7 linked regions of the Homo sapiens genome follow. The protein of the gene in region 6 purifies or fractionates together with the protein of the main gene of each other region. This does not show direct contact. Each region holds a gene or a part of one and is shown on either strand. Other genes may lie near its edges.

Region 1 (3,500 bases), on a different chromosome or scaffold from region 6:
CCTGTTTCTGCACCTGTCCACCAGACAGCGGTGCACTGGTCTCTTTCCAAGTGACTGTGAGTGCCACAGGTGCTGAGATAGAGCTCTGAAGGCAGCCAGCCTGGTGTGTCCAGGGCTCTGCACACAGCAGATGTTTAACACAAAACTGCTGGTCATTCCCTGATGCAAAACATGGGAAAAGAAAGCCTTCTGAGATGAATATGCAGCAAAGCGGTGACCTACTTGTCTTCAGAGCCCTACAGGCATCTGTGAAGGACTCTAAACCCCAGATTTTTGGTGCACAGACATGTGACTTGGACACCAGTTTCCACCAAGGATCAGTTAGGGTGGCAGCAACCTTGAACGCTAGATCATCCCGTTCTCGTAGCACAAGCCAAGCCAGAGGAATGGAGGAGGGTACACACCAACATGAAGATGGTTTGGCAGCATGGCCTGACTCCAAATACAGGCTGAGCCACCTTCCTGGAGCCCAGCCAAATCTATGACAAAGCCGATTGTTCTGATACCCACTAAGGTGTGCCCTTGCTGATTCTGGCTGCTCTGCCAGCTACATGATCACAGCAGTAATAGCTGCAATGAACTAAGTGCCTACCCTGCCCCAAGCAGGCTACACACATCAGCATATACTGCCTAAGGAGGCAGAGAGCCTGGGAGAGGGTAAAGGCTTTGAAGTCAAATGTCCCAGGCTCTGCATTCACCCAGAGAACATCTCAGTGCAAGCCATGCTCCATGCCAGGCACTGAGGATGTAATGAGGTATAAGGGTGGCCCCTGGCCTCAGGGAGTTCATAGTCTGTGGAAGAAAACAGATGGAAAAATAGGCCACTAACCACAAAGTGAGAGATGCCATTATGGGGGCATTCACTCAGCCCTGGCCTCATGACATCTGAGTGAATCCTAAATGAGGCTAGCCATATGTTTTTGTGCAAATTACTTAAATCCCCTAAGCCCTAGTTTCTTCATCTGTGACACAGGGATTAATAATACCTAGGTCACGGGGTTCTATGAAGACTAAATACACAATCTATATATAAAGTGCTTACCTTGAAGCAAATAAAATGATGGTAATCACTCTTATTTAACCACAAAATAATGAGATTTTATGCAGAGATGTAAGTATGACAACCCAACTGACTTCTAACTTTTTCTCACGCATACATTTTCACAACACTCAAGGATTACACATTTGGAGTCTCTAACCTGCACTTGATTCTTTATTGGAGGGTCCCTCGGATGACCATATAATTTACTGCCCAAACCAGGCCTCTGAGAGTGGGAAAAAAGGAACAATTCATTATTCCACTGGGACAACATGGTAAACCAGATGTCACATTTGGGACAAAATGGAGCTGCTGGTCACTTTATCTGTTGTCCATTGGCCAATTTCAGAGTCAAAGAAGGCAGCCATCACTATGCATCTCCTTTCTCCATCATTTTTGGGAGCTGCCAATAACTTTGAGAACAAGCCCAGCAAAATCTCAACCTGGGTGAGAGCCAGCAACTGCCCCGCACCATCTAGAAGTCCAGAAACTCAATGAACATGGACACCCTCCCCACCCTCGCATCTCCTCCCCAAACCAGAAAAGAGTCAGACTCTGGTCCTAGCTCTTGGCATCTGTCACCACCCCTCACGTGCTACAGAGCAGCTGTCTCCCAGCAAGACATCAGCCATCCTTTCTGCCTCCTGGATGTTGCCTCTTACCTCAGGTGTCCCAGGCTGTAGAAGCGGGACTCGCCATCGGTGGAGCGGACCACCTGCAGCGTGAACATGGGCTGCAGCTGCCTGAGCTCCAGCAGGACGATGGCCAGGTAATGGATGAAGAGGAGGGCATCCACAAGGGAGACTGCATATTGCACAATGCCCTGGTAATTCCGGTCCCGAGAGTCCAAAATGCGGACCCCGTAAAAAAGCCAATAGGAAACCACAAAGAGAAAGATGAGGACCAACAAAAGGGCACGAAACACAAACACCCGTGGCATGTCAGCTCTCCGCTTGCGGAAAAAAAGTGCCCAGGTCCCTATGAGCAGAATGAGGAGTTTGAATGCCATGGAGATAAAGAGCCCCTCACAAATTGTGCCACAAGGCTCCAGCTCATCCCTCCACAGGATCGGAGGTAAAAGGATGAAGGCAATAGGGGTGAGGAAAACTAGAAGTCCAAGAAAAGAGGCGACGGTGAGGCCCAGGTAGCGTTTGCAATCCAGCCCCACGCTGTCCTCCATGTCCTTGCTGATCCTGGCAATGTCCTCTTGGGATATGCTGTGCTCCGAGGTGCCTGTGATGGCCGTGGTGGTCTCTCCCCAGTTGTCATCCTGGTGGGGAGAAGACAGTGAGGATGACATGACACAGGTCATTTGTAAAAGCTACAAAGGGCAGTGAACATGCAGGGCCCGCTGCATCTACCCAGCCCTATTCACAAAGGCTTCCAGAAAATGAAAGCTTAACTCTTTAAATATTAGAACTTCTTAACTCAAACGATTTTCATTGAAATTTTCAAAATGTATGAGGTATTTACCTTTTCAAACAGAGAAAACATAATGTGATCTTTCTGTCTGTTTGGCTGATTCATTGACATAACATTGATTATCATCCCCTGGGTTGAAAAGCCTTGAGCAGCTCTGAGGGCCTGGAGCTGTTTGCCCTGCAATGCGCAACCCAGGTATTAGACTAATCTTGTGAGAGCTCATCTATAGAGATAAACCTCCTGCATCTTCTTTCCAATTCACGCTGGGTTATAAAGGCTTACGAAGTCCAACTTTTGGAGGTGGGAGTATTACTACACCCTCTAGCAGCCCAGAAGAGCAAAGGGCGTAGCAAGGGAACTTACACCACTACACAAACCCAAGCTTACCTGTAGCTAGGACCCACATTTTAAAATCTCTTTATGGACTGGGGCGCGGTGGCTCACACCTGTAATCCCCGTACTTTGGAAGGCCGAGGCGGACGGATCAGGAGGTCAGGAGATCAAGAACATCCTGGCCAACATGGTGAAACCCCGTCTCTACTAAAAATACAAAAATTAGCAAGGCGTGGTGGCACATGCCTGTAATCCCAGCTACTCAGGAGGCTGAGGCAGGAGAATCGCTTGAACCCGGGAGTCGGAGGTTGCAGTGAGCTGAGATCGTGCCACTGTACTCCAGCCTGGGCTACAGAGTGAGACTCCGTCTCAAAAAAAAAAAAAAAAAATCTCCTTATGATGTTCACAAGATCCACTTAACAAGCATCAGTGTCAAGCACTCTTTAACAATATTTCTCATGGACCAAGCTAAGCAAATCCAGGAATCCGTGTATGGCCAGATTGGCTTAAAAATTCTTTCTAAAACATGTTTTCACGAGGAACTAAACATCAAGGGCATAGAAACAACCAGGATTATTAAAATGTTATCTTTTACTTTCTAGCTTCCTCTCTTTTTAAACTTCTAGGCCGTTGCTAGTTAAAGCAATTAGTCTATTCACTTAGCAAAACCCAGTTGATAGAATTTTAAAGGATTTTGTTGTTTAAA
Region 2 (3,500 bases), on a different chromosome or scaffold from region 6:
TCACGCCTGTAATCCCAGCACTTTGGGAGGCCGAGGCGGGCGGATCACGAGGTCAGGAGATCGAGACCATCCCGGCTAAAACGGTGAAACCCCGTCTCTACTAAAAATACAAAAAATTAGCCGGGCGTAGTGGCGGGCGCCTGTAGTCCCAGCTACTTGGGAGGCTGAGGCAGGAGAATGGCGTGAACCCGGGAGGCGGAGCTTGCAGTGAGCCGAGATCCCGCCACTGCACTCCAGCCTGGGCGACAGAGCGAGACTCCGTCTCAAATAAAAAAAAAAAAAAGAATGAATGAATGGACTGATGTACAGATAGAATGGCGAATGAATGAATGAATGGATGGATACACAAATAAATGAGTAACTTGTAACCCTAAGAGCAGAGATAACTGATGGCCACTGGTCAGAACAAGGCTCCCCATCCACACGCGCCTGGCCTCCTTCCTTCCCAGGCCAACCCCTCCCTCTCTGACCCCGAAGTGGCAGACCTGGCTGGCAGGGAATGCAGACGCCGTCGGGCCCCCGGATCAGCTCCATGGTGTCCTCGTTGACACGTACCAACCGGATGGGGTACACGAAGGACAGGATGCGGCTATTGAAACCACAGGCCCCCACCTGCGAAGGCCAAGACTTGGGCCTGGGCTCTCTCACCATGGGCCCAAAACTGGACAATGAGGGGGAAGTGGGACTCCAGCACCCACACTCTCACGCTCGAACTCTGCCCTCCCCTCTGCATCCAGTGCCTTCTGTGGGCCATCCCTGCAGCAGCCTCGCCCATCCCCAACCTGGCCGCACCTGGCTGTCGAAGTTGCCCAGGCTACAGTTGCACTCTGTGGCCCCGTAGAACTCAGCCACCTGGGGTATGTGGAAGCGGCTGGAAAAGTTGGTCCAGATGGACTGCCGGAGGCCATTGCCTAGTGCCATGCGAACCTGGTGCTGGTTTTCTGCCTCCCGCGGTGGCTGGTTCAGGAGGTAGCGGCACAGTTCACCAATGTACTGCACAATCTGGGGGTGAACTTGGTGTGATTCGAGGCTCCAGAGGCTGCCCTCACTACACTAGGATTCTCCTGATCCCTCAAGCCCCTACTCTCCCCAGGGGCTGGCCATGCCATCCTTTCCCTCTCCGGGTCTCAGCCTTCCCATCTGAACAATGGGAACTTTGCCACAAATGAGCCCTTTGGAATGACTGGCCACCTCAGCTATAAGACAGATGCCCCGGAGTGTAGTTGGGAAGAGGGTAACTAGGGGAAAGGGACAGCTCACCCTTCCCGCTCTCGCTCACCGTGCAGTTGTACTTGATACAATCGTCCCAGAACCGGGAGGCTGAGAACTTCTTCCGAATCACCACCGTCATGCCATGCAGCAGGCACTGGCCGATTCCCACGATGTTTCCTGGAGGCAGAGGGATGGCCCCTGAGGGTCAGCGAGATGAAGACCCTCCCCGGCCCCAAATCAGTGATACTGCCATCCAGCCAGGCAGGCTTGTGCTGCCCTGCAGGCTTCTGCACCTCACATCTGCCTGCCTTGGGTGACCTCCTCCAAGAAGCCTCCCCGGCTTCCATCACCAGGCTCTTCCCTGGTGCTGCCCTCTTGCTCCCTGCCTCTCTCCTACACTCACATATACACCCGACTCTAAGCACCTGGAGGGCAGGAGCTATATTTATTCAAGCTGTCTTCCCTTAAGCCCCTACAAACAAGCAGCAATGCCATGCATATCTGTGGAAACAAACTGAAATGAGACAGGCCCAGATGCCCCGTGGGACACTGCCACACACACTGTGAGGCTGGTGTGCTCATCCTTTTTTCAATTTAAAACAACTTTTTTTTTTTTTTTTGAGACGGAGTCTCGCTCTGTCGCCCAGCCTGGAGTACAGTGATGCCATCTCGGCTCACTGCAAGCTCCGCCTTCCGGGTTCATGCCATTCTCCTGCATCATCCTCCCGAGTAGCTGGGACTACAGGCGCCCGCCACCACGCCCGGCTAATTTTTTTTTTTTTTTGTATTTTTAGTAGAGATGGGGTTTCATCGTGTTAGCCAGGATGGTCTTGATCTCCTGACCTCGTGATCCGCCCGCCTCGGCCTCCCAAAGTGTTGGGATTACAGGCGTGAGCCACCACACCTGGCCTAAAACAAAATTTTTTTTAGAGACAGGTCTCACCATGTTGCCCAGGCTGGCCTTAAACTCCCAGGCTCAAGTGATTCTCCTGTCTCAGCCTTCCCAGTAGCTGAGACCATAGGCATGTGCACCACGCCTGGCTAATCCTGTTTATTTTTATTTTTAAATTAAATTAAATTAATTTATTTATTTATTTTGAGACAGAGTCTTGCCCTGTCACCCAGGCTGATGTGCAATGGCACGATCTAGGCTCACTGCAACCTTTGCCTCCTGGGTTCAAACCATTCTCCTGCCTCAGCCTCCTGGGTAGCTGGGATTACAGGCACCCGCCACCAAGCCCAGCTACTTTTTGTACTTTTAGTAGAGACAGGGTTTCACCATGTTAACCAGGCTGGTCTCGAACTCCTGACCTCGTGATCCACTCACCTCCCAAAGTGTTGGGATTACAGGCGTGAGCCACTGCGCCCAGCCTATTTTTATTTTTTTTGAGACAGTGTCTCGCTCTGTTGCCCAGGCTGGAGTGCAGTGGCGTGATCTCAGCTCACTGCAACCTTTGCCTCCCAGGTTCAAGCAATTCTCATGCCTCAGCCTCACAGGTAGCTGGGATTACAGGCACACGCCACCAGACCCAGCTAATTTTTTTTTTTTTTGAGACAGTGTCTCGCTCTGTTGCCCAGGCTGGAATGCAGTGGCGTGATCTCAGCTCACTGCAACCTTTGCCTCCCAGGTTCAAGCAATTCTCGTGCCTCAGCCTCACAGATAGCTGGGACTACAGGCACACGCCACCACACCCAGATAATTTCTTTCTTTTTTTTTTTTCCGAGACAGAGTCTTGTACTGTTGCCCAGGCTGGAGTGCAGTGGCACGATCTTGGCTCACTGCAAGCTCCACCTCCCGGGTTCACGCCATTCTCCTGCCTCACCCTCCCGAGTAGCTGGGCCTACAGGCATGAGCCACCACACCTGGCTAATTTTTTGTACTTTTAGTAGAGACGGGGTTTCACCGTGTTAGCCAGGATGGTCTCGAACTCCTGGCCTCAAGTGATCCGCCCACCTTGGCCTCTCAAAGTGCTGGGATTACAGGTGTGAGCCACCACACCCAGCCTAATTTTTGTATTTTTAGTAGAGATGGGGTTTTGCCATGTTGGCCAGGCTGGTCTCGAACTCCTGGCCTCAAGTGATCCGCCCACCTTGGCCTCCCAAAGTGCTGGGATTACAGGTGTGAGTCACTGCGCCTGGCCCAAAGCTGTGTGTTTCTACTGCAGCACACTGCCTGATGGGGGTGGGGTTCCTAGAGACCTGGCAGGTGCTGGAGGCTGTGTGACAGCCCTAGAGTTACCTGCTGAGTGGTAGAGGGGGAGGCAGTCATAGACGATGTCGTTGGGCCG
Region 3 (3,500 bases), on a different chromosome or scaffold from region 6:
ATATAAAAAATAGCCAGGCATGATAGCACACACCTGTAGTCCCAGCTACTCAGAGGGCTGAGGTAGGAAGATTGCTTAAGGCTGGCCAGGAGATCAAGGGTGCAGTGAGCTGAGATTGTGCCACTGCACTCCAGCCTGGGTGACAGGGCGAGACCCCATCTCTTAAAAAAGAATTAAAAGTAAAATTATCACACCTGTAATCCCAGCACTTTGAGAGGCTGAGGTGGGCGAATCATGAGGTCAGGAGATCGAGACCATCCTGGCTAACACGGTGAAACCCCATCTCTACTAAAAATACAAAAAATTAGCCGGGCGCGGTGGTGGGTGCCTGTAGTCCCAGCTACTCAGGAGGCTGAGGCAGGAGAATGGTGTGAACCCGGGAGGCAGAGCTTGCAGTGAGCCAAGATCGCGCCACTGTACTCCTGCCTGGGTGAAAGAGCGAGACTCCATCTCAAAAAAAAAAAAAAAAAGTAAAATTATGCACACATTATATGCTTATGTGTTTAAGCATATTAATATTAAATATTTTTATTGTGATTACTTTTGGCTTCTGTCATCCACTCATTTTAGTGAATCAGGAAAGTATTTTAATTGACACATGAGTTAAATGACATAGTTTACTGCTCTGCTGCACAAGAACAGCTTTTAAATACAACAGCATTACCACTTATGCAAGAATCTGAATTCGAACAAAAAATAAGGCTCAGTAAAAATTAAAATGTTATTTTTTATCTGTAACTTTTATATAGGGAGTTAAATTGTCTAGGCTTAAATCTGACCTTCAGTGTTTACTATAACCTTGGACAAATTAGATTTAACTAAATTCTGTGCCTCAGTTTCCTTGTCTATAAAATGGGAATATTGGTACCCTCCTCACAGAGTCATGAGGATTAAATGAGATACAGCATGTAGTAAGCCTCCAAACATGTTTGGCACATACCAACAAACCAAATGTTTGAGGCTATAATAGAGTTCTCCTAATAGGAATAGGGTATTAGTGTGAAATTCAGTGGAATGCTTGGGTTAATTCCTGGAAACACTAGATGGATTATACTCAATATAAGCTCCATGAGGGAGAGGAACAGTTACATGGCATGAACCTTTGAGAAAATATTTTAAGCAGACTGCTGAGTATCAATTTAGTACATGTCACGTTGCGGAAAAATCTCAACAAAATTAAATTATTTTATGAGGACGTGGTGGGACTTCCAAAGTAAGTATGGATAGAATTCAGAGAGAAGTAAAATCACCTTTTAGTAATTAAGGAACTTTATTTGGTATGGATTTTTTTAAGTAATCCAAAGTTTGCTCAATAGCAAATATTTGGGAATGAGGAAAACAAGTATGTGTTCTATTTAAATGTCACAATTTTCAACTTAAGACTTTCATATCACAGCTGTATACTATCTTGCTTTTATAATATGCTTGGGATCATAAAATTAAAATTAGAGTCCTCCAAGCAAAAGTTGACAAAGAGCCTTTGTTTAATGCCATATTTCCCATTATTTTCCCCTCATTTCTATTTCCACTCTCTACCTGTAGGCCATGAGTACATAATTAGTTAAGTACATAATCAGATCTCTTTTAATTTCTCAAATAACAAAGGGTAATATGCCAATAGTCATACCTATTATTATCATTCTTGGTCTCCCTCCTTCAACAAGTAAAGATCTTTTATTTGTAGCAGTTTAAACATACACACATCACATGTATGATTTCGTGATATCTTACATGCAATCTCTTACTTTCTCACTTCTTTCTGAGACAAGCAATTGAAGAGGATTTAAAAAAAAAAAAAAAGGAAAATCAGAATTTATGTGAAGACACAAAAGTAATCAAAAGAAAGAGAATTTTGGCCGGGTGCAGTGGCTCACACCAGTAATCCCAGCCCTTTGGGAGGCCGAGGCAGGCAGATCATTTGAGGTCAGGAGTTCGAGACCAGACTGGCCAACATGGTGAAACCCCATCTCTACTAAAAACACACAAAAAAGGCCGGGCTCGGTGGCTCATGCCTGTAATTCCAGCACTTTGGGAGGCCAAGGCGGGCAGATCACCTGAGGTCAGAAGTTCGAGACCAGCCTGGCCAACATGGTGAAACCCCGTCTCTACTAAAAATACAAAAATTAGCCAGGCATGGTGGCACGCGCCTGTAATCTCAGCTACTTGGGAGGCTGAGGCACAAGAATCCCTTGAATGTGGGAGGCAGAGGTTGCAGTGAGTCGAAATTGCGCCACTGCACTCCAGCCTGGCTGACAGAGCAAGACTCTGTCTCAAAAAAAAAAAAAAAAAAAAACCAAACCCCAAAAATTAGCCAAATGCCTGTAATCCCAGGGAGGGAGGCTGAGGCACGAGAACTGCTTGAACCCAGGAGGCAGAGATTGCAGTGAGTCCAGATAGCGCCACTGCCCTCCAGCCTGGGTGACAGAGCGAGACTCCGTCTTGATAAAAAAAAAAAAAGAGAGAGAATTCTATACTTTAAAAATCCCTATTGCTGGCCGGGCCTGGTGGCTCATGCCTATAATCCCAGCACTTTGGGAGGTTGAGGCAGGTGGATCATTTGAGGTCAGGAGTTTGAGACCAACCTGACCAACATGGTGAAACCCTGTCTCTACTGAAAATACAAAAATTAGCTGGCATGGTGGTGCATGCCTGTAAGCCCAGCTGCTCGGGAGGCTGAGGCAGGAGAATCACTTGAACTTGGGAGGTAGAGGTTTCAGTGAGCTGAGATCATGCCACTGCACTCCAGCCTGGGTGACAGAGCGAGACTCTGTCTCAAAAAAAAAAAAAAATCCCTATTGCAAATGGAAGGTCCATTTATGCAAAATGTATTTCCTATTTCATCTAGCAAATCAAACATGGCTACCAGAAAAGCAGACTTAAGAATTGTGGTGTTTTTACCGCATGCTCTCACTCATAGGTGGGAACTGAACAATGAGAACACATGGACACTGGAAGGGGAACATCACACACCGGGACCTATTGTGGGATGGGGGGTGGGGGGAGGGATAGCATTAGGAGATATACCTAATGTAAATGACGAGTTAATGGGTGCAGCACACCAACATGGCACATGTATACATATGTAACAAACCTGCACGTTGTGCACATGTACCCTAAAACTTATAATAAAAAAAAAAAGAATTTTGGTGTTTTTTTTTTAAGAATACAAATTTCTTTTAAAACTTTGCTAAACTGCTAAAATAGGATAGGAATAATGTGTCCTTCTTAGTAGTCTGCACATCACAAATATGCCACTCCATAACTAACTGAAAACCAAAACCAACAAGTGGATTACACATGTTTGAATACTTCATATGTTACCAAGAGAACATTCTGCTCATTATATTAAGGGAAATTAAGTATGTGGGCTGAGCTTCCTGTACCTGGATCCTGCAGTTCATCTACCAAGGCAGTCTCTACCCAAACACTCTAGAATCTTCAGCATACATTTCTTTGAAAACTAAGAATTTTATATCTGGAGATCACAAAATATGAATTTT
Region 4 (2,762 bases), on a different chromosome or scaffold from region 6:
TAGTTTCTCTGAAGGCATGGGCCCTGTCTGGGACACATAGGAAAACAAACACATTTATGTATAGACCTGTGATCAAAACTGTTCATTCACAGAAGAACCTCCCTGAGAGGTGTTCACAAATTGTAAAGTAGTGAGGTGTTTGCAAACAGAGTGAACAAAGCAGCACATGGAAATCAAACGTAGTCTGTCTTTTCACAGTCACAGAATCACCCAATAATATACTAAAATCTAACCGCAGCTAACACGTCTGCATGTGTCTTCATTTTTATGGTCAGGTCACCATCTAGTCCCACCATTCTCACAGGAAATGTCTCTTGGTAAAAATTTAGGATTTTAATTAAGGGGAAAATATAACTAATTACAAAGTATCAAACCCTTAGTAATTGAAGTTTATAAGGTTAAATCCTCAAATTTTATGTCAATCATACCATATATTCCAAGATACACAAATAAACCAGATATACACAGACGCCAATGCAAGCAACACTACTTTGGTCTCATTTTGTATTTAATATTATCGAAGGCTTTATTAATGCCTTAAAAAACACAAAAAGTTCTGAACACACATTTATTATCTGGAGGAATAAATGCACTCCAAATGCTTATCATCAGAACTCTGGAAAAAGACATATAAATTCTCTCCAGTATTTTAAAAATTGGTATCTAAATAATTTCATTTTGAACTAGGTTAGCAACCTAAGTTGTCTTCATTCAGCTTTTAAAATTGAAAAAAAATTGCTTCAAATATAATAAAGACTTAAGTACACATTCAAAATTTATTTTCTGTTACAGTTTTCTTGCCAAAAGGAGTTGAAGAATTTTTTTGCTTATCTTACTTAGGACAAATGTTGTCAGATTAAAAAAAAAAATAACAGAATAGTAGTTGTAAAGACTAACTCTATATGAATGGTTTTAATCATAGCGCAGTTAAAACAACATTTAATGTAGATTCATTTCGCTGGATGATGTCAACCATTTAAAATATCAGTATTTCTCATATCATTTCTGGATGGTCTTGACACATTCTTACATCTTCTTCAACATGACTTCTTCACTTTTCTTCTCTAGAGTTTTCTTGAGTTAAAATAATGGCTTGAAGAAGATCATATGAGATCTAGTGGCTCTGTGATATTTCTTAAATGGTGGGCAAGGCTGGGCTGGCTGATAATGTAACTCATTAACATGAGCCGTATTTTCAGTGCCCCAGGCTGGCCAGGCAGTCTGAGAGAAGGCCTTAGTTCCTCTTGCAGATAAAGATAGAGTCCATTCTTTCACTAGTCCAGGGCAGTGGCCAAAAAAGTCCAGGAAAGGCATTACATAGAATGCCATCGTTTAGAAGAGATTTGGATTTAACGGCGTTGTTATAGGTAAAGTATCTCCTGAGAAAAATCTCATTGACTCAGTGTTTGGGGGAACGTTAAATTTTATCATCACAGTTGCCTTTCTCTGTGGAAAAGATTTTATTTATTTATTTATTTTTTATTTTACTTTAAGTTCTGGGAGGAAAAGACTTCTTTAATTTGCTATGATCACTTCCTCTCAATTTCTTTTTCTTACAGTCATGCATACTCTGTAATCTAAATTTCTTAAGTTTATTTAAAAATCAGAGAAAAACAACCCAAGGGGATAAAAACAAGCACAAAGTAAAGAAAGAAACCAATAATTTTGCCATTATACTTTCTCCTGGATAACTGCAGATATTTCTTGTCATTTCCATTCTGTTTCAACACTGCAGAACAATACACTGGAGGCCCAATGGCGAAGCAATGTGCACATGAGTGACAAAACATGGGAACCAGAAAAGGAATATAAATGTAAATCAAACTTTTAAAATCCCAGTAATGCAACAGCTTCTTTCCTTATTTATTGGATTAATGTCCCTTCCACATGAATTCACATTTTGATTCCAGGAAGCCATGTACCATAAGCCCTAATAACAAAGACCACTATTTGTCGAGCCTGTGGCCGGTATCTACTGGTGGCAAACTTGCAAAGGTCTTCTGGAAGACTCATAAAATTATGTTCTATTTGTTTTCTGGATTCAGGGGACCACGGAAATAGAGAAGGATAGAAACAAGGCATGCTTTTGAGGTTTCTTGGGCTGGGTAGTAGAAAAATAGGTGTTTTCCTTTGGGGATTTTTGCAGCCGAGAATACTTTGTCATTTTCCTCAGTCTTTAAGGGAGTGGTAGGCTTTGGCAGTCCGGCTGTTGACAAAATCTGTCTTCTTAAACTGAGCCTTTGGAATAAGCAAACAGAAACGTGAAAGGTAACAAAACTGGCACACAAGAAAATGCAGTTTTTTAGCGATTTCTTCCCAGGGTCAAGTCAAGTGGGCCATTATTACCTGGCTCTGTTAACTATGACACATTCCTTGTTCATGTTCTTACCTTCTTGTAGGCATGATGCAGTTCCGTGTGTGCCCACAGAGAATACAGAAGGACGGAAGCAGCTTTACTTGCTTTGTTGGAGGCATAGCTGAAAAGAAAAGGACATTCTGAGATCAGGGAGAATGAGTGAGGCTTCTGGATGCGGCCTGTGGGTGTTCTGTAAGACCTCTTCGCTCCTCAACTGCTACTCCGCAGCAGCCATCCATGAAGTCAGGCCACTCGGTGACCAGACAATTAGGCAGCAAGCTCTGCAAGGCGGGGACCATATCTGTTTTTGTTTTCTTTTTAAACCACTAGCACAGTGCTAATAAATAAATAGTTTATAGGCCAGGTGGGGTGGCTCACGCCTGTAATCCCAGCACTTTTGGGAGGC
Region 5 (3,500 bases), on a different chromosome or scaffold from region 6:
GACAGTTCATTCCTAAGAATGGGAAGCAGAGAGAACTCCTAGTGAAATGGGCTGGGGACACACACTGAGAAGATGGAGCTTTCTTTTGGGATGCGTCTCCCTGTTTGGGTGTGTGGGTGTGAATGGGGTAGCCTCGCCTTGAGGGAAGATTGCAGAGGAGGATGTGGTCCTGGAGACTTTCGCTGAAGGGAGAGCCCAGAATAGGAAGCGCCACCTGCAGACTTGGCTCCAGGGATTATAAATGAGGCTGGTTAATGATATGCCCAGCTGTGATGGGGCCAGGGATGGACCCAAAGTAGGAGGAAGTGGGGGCAGAATACGAGAGAGGATTCGGAAGCATTTCCTCCTCATCGTTCTGGTTAGCTGGAAGGGCTTGAGATCCTGATGTGGCCTTATCTGGGGCTTTCCAGCACTTTCCAGAGCCAGATGTGGCTCTCTCCTTGCCCAGGTACTGGTCTTGCAGCAGGTCTGGGACAGGACAGGTTTTCCTCAGTGTGAGGGATTGAGGTTAGAAGAGTGTGTCCCTGAAGCCCGGGTGGGGTAGTCAGTGGTCCCTACCACTGGGGTTTCAGGAAATAGGTGGGGGATAGATGACCCCAGAGACCCCACACCCAGCACTTTCTGCCTCTTTCAATGCCTACTGTTCTTCTAGCTGCTGCCCTGGCCTCTCGCCACCCTGACATCAACAACCCTTTGGCAGTGCCCACCTGGGGAGGAGCCCGACCTGGTGAGCATTGCCCTGCTCTCCTGCCTGTCCTGGGAGGGCCCTGAGGGCCAGGGGCAGAGTCCTGTGCCTGGCCCCCAAGGGTCCTCAGGCTTGGCTCCTGGCCATGCTCTCACCCTTTACCTCCCACAGGACCCAGGGCAGGGCACATTATGCAGGCCCTGCCCCCCAGGCACCTTCTCAGCTGCATGGGGCTCCAGCCCATGCCAGCCCCATGCCCGTTGCAGCCTTTGGAGGAGGCTGGAGGCCCAGGTGGGCATGGCAACTCGAGATACACTCTGTGGAGACTGCTGGCCTGGGTAAGCCAAAGGGAGTGCGGGGAGGGCTCCTGGCTGGGTGACCAGGACTCTGGATCCTGGGGCCCCAGCCTTATTGTACCCTGAGCAGGCCTCATTCTTCCCATCTGTGAAATGGGATGGGGCAGGACCACGGAGGGTGCCTGGTAGGAAGGAATCCAGCCTCTCCTAAGGATAGTGTTTGGGGAAACTTCTGGGCCTCAGTGGTATCTTCCCTCCTCGCAGGTGGTTTGGGCCTTGGGGGGTTCCCCGCGTTCCATGTCAACCATGTTCCTGGGCACCTCTGGGTACTCATGGCTGTGATGGTGAGTGGCAGACTGGGGCTAGGACTGGTGCAGGGGTATGTGCGGGAGGGGCCAGTGAGTTGGAGCCCAGCAGCCTCTGCAGTGTTCATGTGGGGGCAGTGGGGTCCTTCTTCCAGCCCAGGGCAGGGCGTGCAGCCAAAGGGTCTCCAGCAGGGCACAGTCAGCCGCTCCCCTGGCTGTTTCTGCCCACCATGCTTCCGAGTGGCAGAGAGTGTCCTGCAGATGGCAGCCACAGCTGGGGGCTGGGGACTCACATACTGACCTGTCCCCTGTCCCCATCCCTTCAAAGAGATTCATGCCAGCCAAGTGCAGTGGCTCATGCCTGTAATCTCAGCACTTTGGGAGGCCAAGGCAGGAGGATCACTTTGAGACCAGCTTGGGCAACATAGCAAGACCCTGTCTGCAAAAAATAAAAATAAAAAATTAGCCGGGCGTGGTGGTGCTACTCGGGAGGCTGAGGCGGGAGGATTGCTTGAGTCCATGATTTTCATGCTGCAGTGAGCTGTGATCGCCCCACTGCACTCCAGCCTGGGCAACAAGTGAGACCCTGCCTAAAAAAACCCATGCAGATGAGTGTGCGCATGCAAACACTCACATACCCACACGCACCTCCTCCCGCCACTGAGTCAGTCACCCCCTGAGGCACTAGATTCATGGCCAGGCCACAGGGAGGCAGATCCCACGTCCCTGTGCCCAGACATGTGTCCTGTGTGCCATCTCTTCACCCCCTGACCCCAGCGTGAGGGGAGGGTGGGGCTGGGTGTCTGGCCGTCCTGAGGAGGCCTTGTTCAGGACAATGCTTCGATGGCCAGAAGGGAAAACAGGAGGGCAGTGGGTTGACCTTTGCATCCCCAGCATGGCGGGGAGTGGGCTCCCCTGGGCACATTGGCTCTCCTGCAGCCCCCACTGACTCGGGCCCTGGGCCCCTGTCTCTCTGTGTTTGTGTCACTCTGCTTTTGTCCTGCCTCCATCGTCTGTGATGCTCAGAGTGGGGGCGGCGGGCCCGACGTGGCGTGGAGGTGGCAGCAGGGGCCAGCAGCGGTGGTGAGACACGGCAGCCTGGGAACGGCACCCGGGCAGGTGGCCCAGAGGAGACAGCCGCCCAGTACGCGGTCATCGCCATCGTCCCTGTCTTCTGCCTCATGGGGCTGTTGGGCATCCTGGTGTGCAACCTCCTCAAGCGGAAGGGCTACCACTGCACGGCGCACAAGGAGGTCGGGCCCGGCCCTGGAGGTGGAGGCAGTGGTGAGGCCCAGCTGGGGTCCAGGTGGGAAGGACGGGGGCACGAGCCCAGCCCCAGCTCCACTTGGGGGCTGCCAGCGGAATCCTGCCTGGCCTCTGGGGTCTGAGAGGGAGAGGCTTGGGAGGTGATAGCTGCAGACTGACAACATGGGAGGAAAGGTAAGGGGACGAAGGTGTGGCCGTGGGGGCAGAGCAGAGGTGGCACAGCTGGTCAAGTGGCTTCAGTGGATCCTACCCTGGGTGAAGCCTTGCCCAGATGTGGGGATCTGGACTCTTTGGAGGCCACAGTTGTGTGTATGGTTCCAGGGTCGGATGGTGGCCTTGGAGTTACTCAAGGTGACCTCTGACCTCTGGCCTGGAGTAGCAGGAGTGCCCTGTGGCAGGAGGGCTGGCAGGGCAGCTGTCCTGTCCTGGGCAGGCACCATAAGGGGCTCGGGTTTTGGTTCCAGGCTGTAGTTTGAGTTACAAGGCCTGGAACCGGAGGGACAGGCATGCGCCACCACCTTCACCCCCAGGGCCCCGGGCCCCTTTCCTTCTTCCCCACACCACTACTCCCCTGCAGGGCAGGGGCCCACTCGCACACACCCTGCCCTGGGCCCATGGGAGCCTGTGGCTACCTCAAGAGTGAAATGGCATCTCCCATGCTAGCACCCTCGGCTGTCTGGGGCTGGCATGGGAGCCAGAGACCCTTCTAAGTCCTGACACTGAAGTCTGGCGGGGGCAGGAAGCGGACAGGAGCAGTAAGCCGGCAGGAGGAAACGTGGTGACTCAGGGCCATTTTGCCTGGGACTGTGCTTGTTTTCCTAGAGACTTCCCTTTAACTGCTGGATGCTGCCTGGGTGCAAGTCCTGGGAGCTCTGTTTGCTGCTGGGCCCAGGGCTGATCATCGTGGCCCATTCTCACACCCTTGAGATTTGGGCCCAAAGCTGACTA
Region 6 (4,171 bases):
TAGGTTATTTGCAAACTCTGTGCCATTTCATATAAGAGGCTTGAGCATCTACAGATTTTGGTATCTGAGTGGAGATCTCGAAACCAATCACCCACGAATAGTGAAGGATGACCGTATATGACTTTTATTTCTCAAATTTAAATATAAATCATAAAAAATGTACAACTAGATAAAAACTAAGAAGTGTTTTTATAGTGTGAGTTAGATTTATTTTTTCCTAGGTATAACCCATTGGTTTAATATTATTTATTGAGAAGACATTCTATGCCACCTTAAACCACACGGCAGCCTTTGTCAACTCTAAAGGGACTGTGTGTACACGGATGTACTTTAGACACTGTTTCTGCTAAGGGGCTCTCTGTGTCCACACTCTTGATGATGCTGCACTTTATGTAGCCTTATAGAACCCTTTAAATTTAGTAGCCAGAGCTCTCTAATTTGTTATTATAGGCTATTTGCTTTTTTTTCTTGAGGCGGAGTCTTGCTCTGTCGCCCAGGCTGGACTGCAGTGACACAATCTCAGCTCACTGCAACTTCTGCCTCCCAGGTTCAAGCGATTCTCATGCCTCAGCCTCTTGAGTAGCTGGCGTTACAGGTGCCTGCCACCAGGCACGGCTAATTTTTGGATTTTTAGCAGAGACACGGTTTCACTATATTGGCCAGGCTGCTCTCAAACTCCTTATCTCAGTTGATCCGCCCACCTCGGCTTCCCAACGTGCTGGGGAAACTTGATTTTCTATAGCATTATGTTACTGGATATTTCTGTAAAATTTAAAATGAGGGAGGGAGAGAGACAGACGGAAAACAAACTCCAGAGTTGGGACTCTGGAATCTTGGGTCATGAGACAAATTTTAGATTAAACTACAAAACTCCAGAATTTACAGGTGGGGTTTTTACTGATAAAGTACAATTCTAAGATTGTAAATAATTGCATAATCCTTCCCTGGGAATTTAAATCATTTTAACTGGTTCTGCTGTAATACTAGAAATACAAGCATGAAAAATTCTAATGGTTTATTAGTGACAATGACTCTGAAAACATTAATAATACCTATTAGATATTTTGCATATTACACAGGAAGAAGAGTTTGAATCTCAGATAAAAACAATAGAAATACATGAAAAGTCTTTCATGTTAGCACAGATTTTAGGCATCTCGTGTTCGGGAGGTTGGATCTCAGACGTGTTTTGAGTTGGTCATAGTGAAGGACACTAGGTGTCAAATTCTAGCGAGAACAATTTCCAGGAAGCCGTGTTCCGCTCTTGAGCGAGCACCCACTGGGCCTCATGCAAGGTAGAAAGAGCCTGCGTACGTCACCCTCCCATGATGTGGTCAACATGTAAACTGCATGGGCAGGGCGCCAAATAACATCCTGTGCGCTGCTGAGCTGAGCTCGGTCGCGGCTGCCTGTCTGCTCCGGCAGCACCATGTCGCTCTTGGTCGTCAGCATGGCGTGTGTTGGTGAGTCCTGGAAAGCAATAGAGGGAGGGAGTGAGGGGATGGAGATCTGGGCCCAGAGGTGGAGATATAGGCCTGGAGGTGGAGTTATGGGCCTGGAGTGGAGATCTGGGCCTGGAGTGGATATATGGGCCTAGAGATGGAGTGATGGGCCTAGAAGTGGAGATCTGGGCCCAGAGGTCGAGATATAGGCCTGGAGGTGGAGTGATGGGACTGTAGTGGAGATCTGGGCCTGGAGTGGAGATAGGAACCTGGAGGGGAGATAGGAACCTGGAGGGGAGATATGGGCCTGGAGGTGGAGATATGGGCCTGGAGTGGAGTCATGGGCCTGGAGGTGGAGTTATGGGCCTGCAGTAGAGATATGGGCCTGAAGTGGAGACATGGGCCTGGAGTGGAGATATGGGCCAGGAGTGGAGATATGGGCCTAGAGGTCGATATCTGGGCCTGGAGTGGAGATATGGGCCAGGAGTGGAGATATGGGCCTAGAGGTCGATATCTGGGCCTGGAGAGGAGATATGTGCCTAGGATGGAGATACGGGCCTGGGTGTGGAGATATGGGACTGGAGAGGATATATGGGCCTGGAGTGGAGATATGGGACTGGAGAGGAGATATGGACCTGGAGTGGAGATAAGGGCCTGGATTGGAGATATGGGCCCAGGGTGGAGATCTGAGCCTGGATTGGAGATATGGGCCTGGATTGGCGATATGGGCTTAGGGTGGAAATATCGGCCTGGAGTGGAGATATGGGCCTGGAGTGGAGATATGGGCTTGAGGTGGGGATATGGACCTGGAGGCTGGGTCTCTGCACAGCCGACAGCCCTGTTCTTGGGTGCAGGTAGGCACTGAGGGTGAGTTTACCTTCAGCCCAGGAAGGGCCTGGCTACCAAGACTCACAGCCCAGTGGGGGCAGCAAGGGTGCCCTGGTTTGCCTGCAGATGGGTCATCCATCATGATCTTTCTTTCCAGGGTTCTTCTTGCTGCAGGGGGCCTGGCCACATGAGGGTGAGTCCTTCTCCCAACCTTCGGGTGTCATCTCCCCACATAAGAGGATTTTCCTGAAATGGGAGGGAAGTCCTGTCAGGGAGTCTCTCATAAACTAGGAAGAAGGGACCCTGGGGTGCTGGGCCCACATTTCTGACCTTGCCTCCCTGGCCTTTCATTCCCTTGGCAGAGTCAAGTTCTGTGGGGACCAGGGTTAGACTACGGTGCTCAAAGCTGGGGTGTGTGGTGGGGAAGTGGTAGGAACAGCAGATCCTCTGAGGACAAAGGTGTTACTCACACACTTCAGCGTTTCCATGACGGTAGGGGCTGCAGTGTGGCTGCTGTCATTCTACCAGAAGAGGTGGGAAAACCACAGCCATGGCCCTGACATTCCAATCCTCTGATGGGGACTCAGTTGTTTATTTTCGTTCAGGCATCGGCTGATATTCCATTCTCAAAGGACATGCCCTCCACCCCATGTCTACCCTGTGTTGTTTTATGTGAGTAATCTTACAGTATTAAAATCTAGTAGGAGTCTCTTACTCAGCACTTGCTCAAAGTTCTCAGCTGACACTTTTGTTGTAGGGAGACACCTTGTGTTTGCGGGATGGGTCCTTCCTTTAGCCCTGGGCACCAAGGTGTGATAGCAGCCATAGAAACTTGGAAAGCGAGGAGAATCTTCAGAGCACAGGGAGGGAGGGGCGGCTCCACATCCTCCTCTCTAAGGCGGTGCCTCCTTCTCCCCACGGTGGTCAGGACAAGCCCTTGCTGTCTGCCTGGCCAAGCCCTGTGGTGCCTCCAGGACATGTGATTCTTCAGTGTCATTCTTATCTTGGGTTTAACAACTTCAGTCTGTAAAAGGAAGATGGGGTGCCTGTCCCTGAGCTCTACAACATAATATTCTGGAACAGCCTTTTCATGGGCCCTGTGACCCCAGCACACGCAGGGACCTATACATGTCGGGGTTCACAACCACACTACCCCAGTGGGTGGTCGGCACCCAGCAACCCCCTGGAGATCACGGTCACAGGTCAGAGGGCTCCTGTCTGGGATTCTCCTTGTCCCACCTCCTGAATCCCAGAGCTCCTGGTGGGCGTGTCCTTGCGGGTCCCATCATGCAAGTCCTGACTGTATTTGGGGTAAAGGGGGATTGAATACAGGGAAATGGGTGCTGTGGTGGGAAGAATAATTGTCCCCAGTGATGACTACATTCTAATCCCTGGAGTCTGTGACTATTTATGATATAGGGGAAGGGACTGAAGGAGAAGATGGAGCTCAGGTTGTTGATGAGTTGACCTTGAGATGGGGAGACAGCCTGGACTGTCCTGATGGGCTCAGTGTAGTCACAGGGGTCCACATGAAAGGAGGAGGAAGAGGGGAGTGGGGATTACAGCAGCATAATGGGAGTCTCCATCAGCTTTGAAGGTGGAGGAAGTCCAGGAGCCATGAATGCAGGTGGCCTATAGAGGCTGGAAAAGTCAAGGAACTGATTCTCCTGAGTCTCCAGAGGGAACGAAGCCCTGCAGGTGCCTTGATTTTACCCACGACAAACAGGGTCCGATTTCTGTCTCCAGAATTGGAAGGGGTTAGTGTGCTCTCTCCTGGTGCCATGCTTCTGATAATTTTCTACAGCAGCAACAGGAAACCAACACTGGAACCCAGGTCAAGGACAAGTTAAGAAACAACACAAGGATAGCCAGGCATGGTGGCAGGTGCATGTAATCCTAGC
Region 7 (3,500 bases), on a different chromosome or scaffold from region 6:
CCCAGTGGTGTGACTGTGGCTATTGCAGCCTTGACTCCCTGGGCTCAAGCAATCCTCCCACCTCAGCCTCCTGAGTAGCTGGGACTACAGGCATGTGCCATCATGCCTGGCTAATTTTTTTTTTCTAATTTTTAAATTATTTCTAGAGATGGGGTCTCCCTATGTTGCCCAGGCTGGTCTCAAACTCCTGGGCTCAAGCCATCCTCCTACCTCCGCCTCCCAAAGTGCTGGAGTTATAGGTGTGAGCCACCAAGCTTGGCCCTAAGTTAGTATCATTTTGCTATCACTTCCAGGATTATTCATTTCCCATAGTCTTATCTCTCTGGACATTAGAGCCCTAGAGGGCAGGGTCAGTATCCACTTTGATATGTAACACTCAGAGGAGTGCTTTGCATGTTGACATTATAAATAGCAACAGAAAATGAAATGCTGTTGAGCAATTTTGAAAATATCTATTTTTTTTTTTTTTTAAATCAAGAGATTGAGATTTGGGGAAGATGATGGTGAGAGTATAAATTCCTGACTTGACCTTTGGTCCATTTCCTCCATGGAGTAGCACAAGAATAAAAGCAGACACACTAAGGAGGGTCCATCTGAGGCCCCAAGTTCCCTTGAGATCTCCAGGGAAGAAAGCCAGGTAGAGGGCTATACTCTCTGAAGTGAAGAGAGAACCAGGGAACTGACAGCAGGGAAGCTTAGATTTTTCTTCAAGCTTGAGGCAAAGACCTAGGGCTTCCTTGCTTCCTGAGGAACCCAGACAGTGGAAGACTATGGATCTGCATACACAGGGGTTGCAGTGAAATTGCTCCCAGGCACTGAAGCTGGGAAAGGACTGCTACATGCAGCCAGAAAGATGACAAGCAGAGAGCCGATAGTCTTGTAGCTGGTGTGATGCCCAGCCCCTAAGGGAAGAGCCCAGTGATGGATGCATCACTGCCTGATATGCCATTGCTTAAGAGGCTCTCATAGCTGGATCTATCTGGGAGCTGAGTGAACACATTTTTGGCCAGGTAAGGTCTCACAGAGTAAACCACCATGTATCTTATTGAAGGGAAATGCTAGAAGGAATATTCTAAACAAATGACACATGAATCAAAACTTGAATTTCAAGATTTGAGATGGCAAAAGAGAAACAAAAGTGTGTAAGGAGGTATATACAGGTTGAACATCCCTAATCTGAAAATCAGAAATCCCCAAGACTTCTGGTCCCAAGTATTTTGGATAAGCAACATTCAATCTGTAAAAGAATATTTGTTGAAGCATTTTTGGAATAGTAAAAAATGAACAACAACAGCAAAAAGACCAAAAAAAAAAAATCCCCCAAAACTGGAAGTAACATTTGAATGGTATAATAGATTATGATATAACCATACTTTGGTTATTAAAAAGGATGAGTTAGTATTATTTCTATTAACACGAAGGGGTGTTTATAACATATTGAGTGATTAAAGCAAGCTACGGAATGTGCAGAATATCAATGCTGTAATATTTTCAGAAACAAACACCCTTGGGGATGTTTGTATGACAGTGAAAAAGTTGTATATCAGTAAGATACACAATTGTCACTTAACACAAGTTACTTCAGAGGTTAAGAATGGAGGGGTACTACCAGGAGATTGACTTTTCCTTTATCCATTTTAGTATTAGTTAAGTTGTTACAATAAGAACATTTTGATAATATACAAATGTACTTCGATAATATATAAATATCTAATAAAGAAAAATGAAAAGAACATTAGAAAAATCCCACCTGAGTGATTAAGAAATGTTAACAACATCTGAAGCTACACACACACACAAAATTAACATGGACATGCTAGGATTTAGATCACTTTCAACTGAAATCACAGGCAGTGATTACATAGTATTTGGGTATTTAAAAAAATGAGTTAGGGCTAGGCGCGGTGGCTCATGCCTGTAATCCCAGCACTTTGGGAAGCCAAGGCAGGTGGATCACTTGAGGCCAAGGAGTTCAAGACCAGCCTGGCCAACATGGTGAAACCTCTTCTCTACTAAAAATACAAAAATTAGCCAGGCGTGGTGGTGAGCGCCTGTAATCCCAGCTACTGGGAGGCTGAGGGTGAAGAATCACTTGAAGCCCAGGAGACAGAGGTTGCAGTGAGCTGAGATCGCGCCACTGCACTCCAGCTTGGGTGACAACACAAGACGCAGTCTCAAACAAAACAAAACAAAGTTAGTATTTCTATTAACTTGAAGGGATGTTTATAACATATTGAGTGATTAAAGCAAGCCACAGAATGTATAGAATATGAATCCTCTAATAATTACAGAAACAAACATCTTTGGGGATGTCTGTATGACAGTGAAAAAGGTATCAGAAGGATACACAACTGTCAGTTAACACAAGTTGCTTCAGGGGTTAAGAATGGAGGGGTACTACCAGGAGACTGACTTTTTCTTTTTCTTTTTTTTTGTTTGAGACGGAGTCTTGCTCTGTCACCCAGGCTGGAGTGCAGTGGCGCGATCTTGGCTCACTGCAACCTCCGCCTCCCAGGTTCATGCCATTCTCCTGCCTCAGCCTCCTGAGTAGCTGGGACTACAGGCGCCTGCCACCACGCCCAGCTAATTTTTTGTATTTTTAGTAGAGACGGGGTTTCACCGTGTTAGCCAGGATGGTCTCGAACTCCTGCCCTCGTGATCCGCCCGCCTCAGCCTCCCAAAGTGCTGGGATTACAGGCGTGAGCCACCGCGCCCGGCTGACTTTTTCTTTATCCGTTTTAGTATTATTTAAGTTGTTACAATAAGAACACTGTACTTGTATAATATACAATATACAAGTGTCTAATAAAAGAAAAATGAAAACATTAGAAAAATTCCACTTGATTAAGAAACGTTAAATAACATTTGAAGCTACACACACAATTAACATGGACACACTAGGATTTGGATCACTTTCAACTGAAATCACAGGCAATATCTGCAAATTTAGAAAATGAAAAGTCCTAGAGAATATTACAGTTCTTCCAGGGTCCTGATTTCCTATGTGTTTTAATGCTGACAATCCCATCTTCCCAATACTTTTAGGCCTATTCTAGAAAAATATCTGTTCATGTGGAGATATTATGGTCTGGTCTTTTGAAATGACATTTCAGAATAAAGAAATGTAACTGGGTAAAACTAAAACAAACAAAAAAATACATTAGCAGCTCCAAATCCACCACTGTGATGCACCTCAATAAAATTATGAGTCAAGCAATGATTTTAAAAAGTTTTCCACAGATCTCAGAAATGCTCAAGAATGGAAGGGATCACTCTCTCTGAGGGCAGAACTGTGGAGTAGGGTTAAAAATGGAGATTTGTAGAAATTTGTACAAGGAGTTGCCATAACCCAAAATTGCCCTTCCTAACGCATGCAGCTAGGTGGCTGCCCCTAGTCCAGTAGAAGACCTAGCTCAGGAGAAGAGACATAGAGGTCTGGCAATTTGAAGTCCCCAGTGAAACAGCCAGGTCCGCCTGATCACGCATGGTGAGGCCTAACA

What was found.
Region 1: the proteins of KIR2DL1 (region 6) and VANGL1 purify together in Homo sapiens (affinity purification with mass spectrometry; one large-scale study listed by BioGRID and IntAct). This does not show direct contact.
Region 2: the proteins of KIR2DL1 (region 6) and SLC27A4 purify together in Homo sapiens (affinity purification with mass spectrometry; one large-scale study listed by BioGRID and IntAct). This does not show direct contact.
Region 3: the proteins of KIR2DL1 (region 6) and FLVCR1 purify together in Homo sapiens (affinity purification with mass spectrometry; one large-scale study listed by BioGRID and IntAct). This does not show direct contact.
Region 4: the proteins of KIR2DL1 (region 6) and PKP2 purify together in Homo sapiens (affinity purification with mass spectrometry; one large-scale study listed by BioGRID and IntAct). This does not show direct contact.
Region 5: the proteins of KIR2DL1 (region 6) and RELT purify together in Homo sapiens (affinity purification with mass spectrometry; one large-scale study listed by BioGRID and IntAct). This does not show direct contact.
Region 7: the proteins of KIR2DL1 (region 6) and GOSR1 purify together in Homo sapiens (affinity purification with mass spectrometry; one large-scale study listed by BioGRID and IntAct). This does not show direct contact.

The regions. Positions count from the first base shown.
Region 1 is NC_000001.11:115,662,470-115,665,969, reverse strand, and holds part of VANGL1 (vang-like protein 1), read right to left. Parts: intron 2,310-3,500; coding exon 1,702-2,309; intron 1-1,701.
Region 2 is NC_000009.12:128,350,527-128,354,026, reverse strand, and holds part of SLC27A4 (long-chain fatty acid transport protein 4), read right to left. Parts: coding exon 3,452-3,500; intron 1,390-3,451; coding exon 1,280-1,389; intron 1,003-1,279; coding exon 793-1,002; intron 613-792; coding exon 486-612; intron 1-485. UniProt on the Homo sapiens protein: Mediates the levels of long-chain fatty acids (LCFA) in the cell by facilitating their transport across cell membranes. Appears to be the principal fatty acid transporter in small intestinal enterocytes.
Region 3 is NC_000001.11:212,864,775-212,868,274, reverse strand, and holds part of FLVCR1 (choline/ethanolamine transporter FLVCR1), read right to left. Parts: intron 1-3,500.
Region 4 is NC_000012.12:32,790,255-32,793,016, forward strand, and holds the end of PKP2 (plakophilin-2), read right to left. Parts: intron 2,478-2,762; coding exon 2,390-2,477; intron 2,239-2,389; coding exon 2,170-2,238; coding exon of another isoform or gene 2,025-2,169; 3' UTR 501-2,024; downstream 1-500. UniProt on the Homo sapiens protein: A component of desmosome cell-cell junctions which are required for positive regulation of cellular adhesion.
Region 5 is NC_000011.10:73,389,899-73,393,398, forward strand, and holds part of RELT (tumor necrosis factor receptor superfamily member 19L isoform 1 precursor), read left to right. Parts: exon of another isoform or gene 1-652; coding exon 653-727; intron 728-856; coding exon 857-1,023; intron 1,024-1,245; coding exon 1,246-1,325; intron 1,326-2,312; coding exon 2,313-2,570; exon of another isoform or gene 2,571-3,500. UniProt on the Homo sapiens protein: May play a role in apoptosis. Induces activation of MAPK14/p38 and MAPK8/JNK MAPK cascades, when overexpressed. Involved in dental enamel formation.
Region 6 is NC_000019.10:54,768,422-54,772,592, forward strand, and holds the start of KIR2DL1 (killer cell immunoglobulin-like receptor 2DL1 precursor), read left to right. Parts: upstream 1-1,371; 5' UTR 1,372-1,429; coding exon 1,430-1,463; exon of another isoform or gene 1,464-1,470; intron 1,471-2,248; exon of another isoform or gene 2,249-2,427; coding exon 2,428-2,463; exon of another isoform or gene 2,464-2,516; intron 2,517-2,600; exon of another isoform or gene 2,601-2,643; intron 2,644-4,171. UniProt on the Homo sapiens protein: Receptor on natural killer (NK) cells for some HLA-C alleles such as w4 and w6. Inhibits the activity of NK cells thus preventing cell lysis.
Region 7 is NC_000017.11:30,515,408-30,518,907, reverse strand, and holds part of GOSR1 (Golgi SNAP receptor complex member 1), read right to left. Parts: intron 1-3,500. UniProt on the Homo sapiens protein: Involved in transport from the ER to the Golgi apparatus as well as in intra-Golgi transport. It belongs to a super-family of proteins called t-SNAREs or soluble NSF (N-ethylmaleimide-sensitive factor) attachment protein receptor.